Linked DNA regions of Homo sapiens. The protein of the gene in region 1 purifies or fractionates together with the protein of each later gene. This does not show direct contact. Each region holds a gene or a part of one and is shown on either strand. Other genes may lie near its edges. The genes, in order: RIPOR2 and MYOF.

Region 1 (3,501 bases):
AAGGGCTTCTTTGTGATGATGCTGGTGGGGTCTGAGTGGGAACAGAACATACACAAATCAGTGAAGGCACTTTTTATTTTTTTTTCCCCGAAACAGAATCTCACTCTGTTGCCCAGGCTGGAGTGCAGTGGCACGATCTTGGGGTAAGCCACCATGCCTATTTGCCCTCAAGGAGCTCACAGTCTCTGCTCATAGATACAACAGTGAAACTTAGCTGTTTTCTCTCCAATTAGCTTTACAACAAACTGAGATTTATTATCTCTATTTAGAGATAAAGGAATTTCAAATTGAAAATAAAAGCACGAGCTGTGGTGGCTCACACCTGTAATCCCAGCACTTTGGGAGCTCGAGGCGGGCAGATCACCTGAGGTTGGGAGTTCGAGACCAGCTGATCAACATGGAGAAACCCCATCTCTACTAAAAATACAAAATTAGCAGGGTGTGGTGGTGCATGCCTGCAATCCCAGCTACTCGAGAGGCTGAGGTGGGAGAATCGCTTGAACTCGGGAGGCGGAGGTTGCGGTGAGCCGAGATCGCACCGTTGCACTCCAGCCGGGGCAACAAGAGCAAAACTTCGTCTCAAAATAAATAAATAAAATAAAATAAAGGTGAAAATGAGGTGCAGTGTGTTCTGTAAATACCAACTCAGAAAGGGCATGTGAAAAAAAATAACATCAGACTGCACATGATGCTAGTAATTCAAAAATAATTTTTATTTTAACTTACATGACTGAAAGATCAATGAATACAAATGCCACACAACTAAAAGCACCCCTCAACCAAACATAAAATACAGAAGTGAATACAAAAGATCTGGAATTAATTACTCATGCAATAGTCAAAATAAAAAATAAAAAAATGACAAACCAAACACAAAATCCTGTAACATCTGTGTTTGACTTTCTATAAAAAGAACCATTTCAACCATTTAACATAAGCTATAGGCTATACCTCCTAACTACAGACTGTACAATGTACCTTTAAAGTGAAGGATGTATGAATATATATAATATTTATAAATATACAGATATGTACACGATAAGTTCACAGTTGAAAGAACCATTTGCCAGAAGCCTGGCAAACAATTTGCACTTTGAAATGAAATGAGTCCTTTTTAAAAGTCTTGCTAAAATGTAAATATTTAAAATGACATCTAAATGATACAAACACGTCCATAGTACAGTTGATATTCCACAGTTTAAATTACACTCACATATATTGTTTTGATACCTTGGCATACCCCACCTTGTACACTCTTTAGAGGAAGAAAAGATATTTTAATAAGAGCTACTGAATGGTCTTGTACTTTGCTTAATGAACTTGCATCTCTGATACTGAAGCAATAATGGGACCTGATGTTTGAACTATTTGGCCAGGGAATCCTACCAGTGAGTGATTTCCCTGGGGGCAGTAACCACCCCTCAGGATGTCCTTCTTTCTAATCCCACGGTCATTTTTACAGAAGGAGGGACCACTTTAAATGTTCCTCCACTCCTACTCCATTAGGATTTCTCTGACTTCTAGGTTCCTCCACCTCAAAGAGCATCACAGGTTTGTGAATCTACAGCTTTTGGTTTTGATTTGTCTTAGCAGCAAAACACCCCTATGGTAAGAATATCATAAAAAATAGCTCTCATTAATTAAAAAAAAAAAAGCATAAGCTTTGAGTTTTTTGTTTAAGTGTATAGGCATAATCTTAATGTAGTTCTTAGTCATTTACTTATCATTTTTCCATAATGGAAACATGATTTGGGAATTTTCAGGATGGGGAAAAGAAACAAAATAAATTATGGGAGTTTTTTGTTTTTTTTTTTGAGACTGGCTCTCATTCCTCTGTCACATGGGCTGGAGTGCAGTAGTGTAATCTCAGCTTACTGCAACCTCTGCCTCAAGTGATCCTCCCACCTCAGACTCCAGAGTAGCTGGGAGCACATAAAATTAAAACATCTAAACTCTCCTAATGGGTCATTTTGCCAGGTTCTGCAGGCAAACTTTTATTTGAAGATATTCTTTTTTGTGCTTTGTATTGAAAGTAAAGTTAGGTAGCTAAGGGGACTACTCAACCCTGAGAACACGACCGAGAAAAACTGCAAGGCATATGATGTTTGTCGAAGTATCACATGACTATTTCAAGCTTATAGAGAAACTTGCAAAAAAGTACAAAGATGGCTATTTTTAAATTTCATACATATTAAGATAAGATGGACTCTTTCACTGAGTATTATTAGACACAATCGACGATGTAATATATTTGAATTATACCATAGCCCTATTCTATATTGGCCAAAGGAAAAGTAGATAGGTACTGTGAAACGAGACTCTGAATTCTTTCTATAACATGTTTTTTTAGTTGTTGTTGTTGTTTTGTTTTTTGAGACAGGGTTTTGCTCTGTCACCCAGTCTGGAGTGCAGTGGGGCAATTATGGCTCACTGCAGCCTGAATCTTCTGGGCTCAAGCAATCCTCCCACCTTAGCCTCCCAAGTAGCTGGGACTACAGGTGCATGCCACCACGCCTGACTAATTAAACTATTTTTTTTGTAGAGACAGGGCCTTGCTATGTTGCCCAGGTTGGTCTTGAACCTCCTGGGCTTAAGCAATTCTCCTGCGTTGGCCTCCCAAAGTACTGGGATTACAGGCATGAGCCACTGCACCTGGCCTACATTTTTATTTCAGTTGTCGTGTCTCTCAGGCTCTAAACAATTTCCAGCCCAAACCACAGCACCATCCTGATGAAAAGGGCCAGATATTAAGACAGCTGTTAGGCAGTTAACCTGTAATTAAAAGGCTGTGGCAACTTCAGTTCCATGACGACCTCCGACTTTAACACAGTCTCGAGGAAATTTGTCCAATTGTTCATATGCCAGCCGCCCATCTTCTCCTAAATACAGAACATTAAACATGAATACCAATTCAAACAACGTTTTTATTAATTACTCAAAGTAACATAGTGCCATTTGTTTAGGGATGGGTTGCTATAATATGCTATGCTAACTTTTGGTAAGGAAAAGTTATCTTTTGTTATTCCTAATTATGTCATTGTTTTCCAGGTAATGCTTAGAACAACCAAGAACTTTTGAGCTAATTAATGCCAGAGACCAAAAGAATGCCAGGGTATGAAACAGAGTAGAAGTCTTATGGCCATTTGATGTTGATGATTTCATATAATCGATTTATTTTAGAGCAATTGTATGGATTATATTTTAAGTACATTAGGGATTTCAATATGGCTAATGCACTGAACTTTTACATAACTTTTACTTGTATACATTATATATCGATACATCTAAATGATATGTGGTAAAATCAATCTTAGGCTTTCAAACTTCAGCTAAAAATTACTTTTTACTATGTAAACATACAGAGATGCCTTCTACCAGCCACCAGCTAGTTCAGTTTTGTCCGTAACGCCACCTTGAACAGTTAGGATGCAATTGCAAATAATTTTAATGTTTTGTTCTATTTTTCTACTTTAAAAAATGATTTAGAAAATGAGAAAATAA
Region 2 (3,824 bases), on another chromosome or scaffold:
CTTGTGCAGTGCTGGTGGGAATGCAAAATGGTGCAGGATCTATGGAGAACAGTAGGCCATTTCCTCAGGAAATTAGAAATAAAATCCCAGCACTTTGGGAGGCCGAGGTGGGCAGATCACTTGAGGTCAGGAGTTCAAGATCAGCCTGGCCAACATAGTGAAACCCCTCCTCTACTAAAAATACAAAAATTAGCCAGGCATGGTGGCATGTGCCTGTAATCCCAGCTACTTGGGAGGCTGAGGCAGGAGAATCGCTTGAACCCAGGAGGAGGAGGTTGCAGTGAGCCAAGATGGCGCCATTGCACTCCAGCTTGGGTGACAGAGCAACACTCCATCTCAAAACAAAAACAAAAACAAAAACAAAAACAAAACTGTACACTTAAAATAGTTAAGATGGTAAATCTTACGTTATATGTGTTTTACCACAATTAAAAACAAAGAACCTACTTTGGCAATGCCTTCAAGCTGTTTGTGCAGCCACAGCTGACCAGCATCCTGTTTATTCTGAACAGCTAAGCCTGGGCCACCCCTTGGAAATGTCCCCCAGGACTCTGTATGTCCCTGCAGCAATGGGGGAAGAAGTGGGGCATAAAAGCCAGAAGACATGAGCACCTGTCATGCAACATTCTGTGTCAGCACTACGACAAGTTCTCTATATATTTTATCACAATTGCTCCCAACAACCTCCCTGTGAGGTATAGATTATTCTCCACACTCTGTAGATGAGGAAATGAAGGCTCGGAAATATAGTTGCCCAAAGACACCCAGCTCCTAGGGATAAAACCAGGAGTGAAAATTAATTTTTCGAATCCAAAGGTCATCCCTTTCCAAGTATTGTGTTGGTTACAGAAAGAAGGGGGTTCTTTTAAGTGAGAGGTTATGTCAACCAACAGAGTAAAGATGGAAAAGAACAGATCTAATCCCTGGAAGGAGACAGGCTGCAGAGTTCATACTCTAGGCCCCCAGAAGGCTGCCCTGTGAGTAGACACATCTGGTCTACCCACTTTGTCTTGGCCTTCCATGCCCCTTGGCCACAGTTAATTGGAGCAGGGCTGAACATCTGACCAAAACCAAGGCAATTGGTGTTTTTCTCTGAGCTATCTCATGCACGAGACGCTGCCACTGCAGTTGGATGTAGAGTCAAGACCCAGTCACCTTGCAGCAACCCAAAGCCCATGCAAGAGGCCTCACTAAGGACAGCCAATTTGCAGAGAGCCAACAATTATAGACAATATGCAGAAAAGTAATGGCTGCCATGTGCAGGGAGAAGCAGAGGCAGGAGGCTGCACAGTCCCTGGGAAATGAGGAGAGGGGAGCTGACATGATTCTGGCTCTTGTGAGGTCTGTGATCTGGACTCCAGATTTCTTTCTAGCTTTAGAAAAATCAAGGTTTCCTTGAGCACGCTGAAGTGGGTATCTGCTCCTTGTAATGAAGCAATTCTGAACCATGACTCCCTATCCTTTCAGATAGTACAACAGGCTAGGGAGAGAAGGACCTTATGCAAATGAACCATGGCTCAGCTTGGTTGAGGAAATGCTCCCCCATTTGATCTTTGGGAAGACAGCAAAATTTGTCTTCAAAGATCACTTTGTATTTCTGTTTTTGTTCGATCTCTTGGTGGCCTCCCTGCCGCCTCAGGTGGCTACTGCCCTCGTGCTGGCCTCTTGCTGAGCTACCCCAACCAGCCCTGCACTCGCCCACAGGGTGCACACTCCAGCTGGAAGCAAGGCAGTCTGATGTTCCATTTCACAGTACAGTGTGAGGAAGGATGGCCAAATTTGCCTGTCCAGTGTGGCTCCCTTATCACTTTAATTTAATCAGGTTGTTTCCTCAGTGTCTTTCCTTATTAGTGCCTTCCTTCTGATTCCAGTCCTGGGATGAGCTCCATCTGTGCTGAGAAGCATTTGACTCAACTAGTAAGCCTTCTTACTAGTCTCCCTGACTAGTACTAATCTGCTGTTCACATTGCGGCCTAGCGGCTCCCCAATGGTTGATGAGTAAAGTTCAATCCCTATTCATACCACGTTACTCCTCCCCATGGCTCTCTGGTCCTCCTGTACTGTTCCAAAGCCTGGAATGTCTTTTTTCCATTATTTCTGTCAAATTTCCACTCATCCTTTAAAACCAAGCCAAATGACACTTTCTCCACAAGCTTTTTCACTCTTTCATCTACTCAGATTGTAACTTTTCATGTCTATTCTGGTTTGCATCTCATTCTTGTGTGCTAACTAGTCGGTCACCTAGGCCTGAAAATCCAAGCCATCTTATGCATATTTTTCTAGACTTAGTTCCAGAAATACTCTCTGGTGCACTGTAGTGCTCCATGAAACTGTTATCAAATAGGTAAGGAGATTTATAGACTGCCATGTGCAATGTCACATGTACATTAATTTAATCCTCAAACAGCCCTGCAAGGCAGGAGATATTATTAAGAACACTGAAGCTGATTTTTTTTTTTTTTTGAGATGAAGTTTCACTCTTGTTGCCCAGGCTGGAGTGTAATGGCGCCATCTCAGCTCACTGCAACCTTCACCTCCCGAGTTCAAGCAATTCTCCTGCCTCAGCCTCCTGAGTAGCTGGGACTACAGGTGCCCACCACCATGCCTGGCTAAGTTTTTTGTATTTTTAGTAGAGACAGGGATTCACCATGCTGGCCAGGCTGGTCTTGAACTCCTGACCTCAGGTGATCTGTCCACCTCAGCCTCCCAAAGTACTGGGATTACAGGCGTGAGCCATCATGACCGGGCTTGAAGCTGCAGATTGTATTTGCTCATGAGCAACTAGGGATGGCCACTGGAATTCTCATTTAGGCATCCCTGGCCCCAGAGCTCAGGGCCTTTGTACCCTCATGCCCAGTAAGAAGTTAATTGATAAGGCTTAAGGTATCAAATGTCCCATAACTTTTTCTGATTGAGAACTGTGCTCAGACCTGCTCAAAGCACACCCCAGTGCAACAGAACAGCTGTTCAATAGAAATTACACAGTGAGTCAGCTGACCACTGCCATATCATGGCATTCTATATACTACGTTTCATGTATGAAGGTTCAACATAAAACTGGCAGCTTCATATTTTCCTTGCCAGGAACAAGAATGCAAAATGTCTTATACACCAATTTGCCCCCAGAGAACAGGTGCTAGGAACTGGTTGTACTCAGGGTTCATGAATACTTGACATGGTTCTTTGCTAAGCCTCATTCACAAACACCTGAGAGGATATTAAACGTAAAGGGCAATTGGATGACTTCCCAGGGTCTCTTTCAGGACTAAGCATCAAGGACTTTGTCACATTAAGGTGTCTGAAATTTCCTGCCAGTTCTTTGCTACATGCTCAATATTTAAAATGTATATTCAACATCAGTGATGTGCTGGGTGTTGCAGAGGATATAACAATCCCACACCTTCTTGGCAGGGCCAAATCCTACAGTAAAGGAGAAACACACCCGTGATTAGAAAGGAAAACCCATACCAGACAAATACCAGCACCCCTAAGCTGAGGGCACGCAGGTGAGATGTGTTGTGAAGGAGGAAAGAAAAACAAGGCACGTTAATTAATTTTTTAAGGGCCATTGTAGCTTTATAGATGACTGAGACCCTGCAGAATGTGCCTTTGGGGAGTGTACCTTTGAGAATTCCCATGCTTCCATAGGGTGGGGCCACTTTCCTTAGGCAGTGAGTCTCTAAGCCTTGTTCTCCAGAAAGGGATGGGAATGACTCAGGAGATTAAACACTTTTGCCTTCCTGATTGTTTTGTCAATACAATACAGTGGTTTTATGGGAATACCCGAGTAGTGTGATTATCAGTTTGAGCTGATAGGGATCTTC

What was found.
Region 2: the proteins of RIPOR2 (region 1) and MYOF purify together in Homo sapiens (affinity purification with western blotting, with the first as the bait; one study listed by BioGRID). This does not show direct contact.

Annotation. Positions count from the first base shown.
Region 1 is NC_000006.12:24,803,595-24,807,095, forward strand, and holds the end of RIPOR2 (rho family-interacting cell polarization regulator 2), read right to left. Parts: intron 2,880-3,501; coding exon 2,779-2,879; 3' UTR 690-2,778; downstream 1-689. UniProt on the Homo sapiens protein: Acts as an inhibitor of the small GTPase RHOA and plays several roles in the regulation of myoblast and hair cell differentiation, lymphocyte T proliferation and neutrophil polarization.
Region 2 is NC_000010.11:93,472,301-93,476,124, forward strand, and holds part of MYOF (myoferlin), read right to left. Parts: intron 1-3,824. UniProt on the Homo sapiens protein: Calcium/phospholipid-binding protein that plays a role in the plasmalemma repair mechanism of endothelial cells that permits rapid resealing of membranes disrupted by mechanical stress. Involved in endocytic recycling.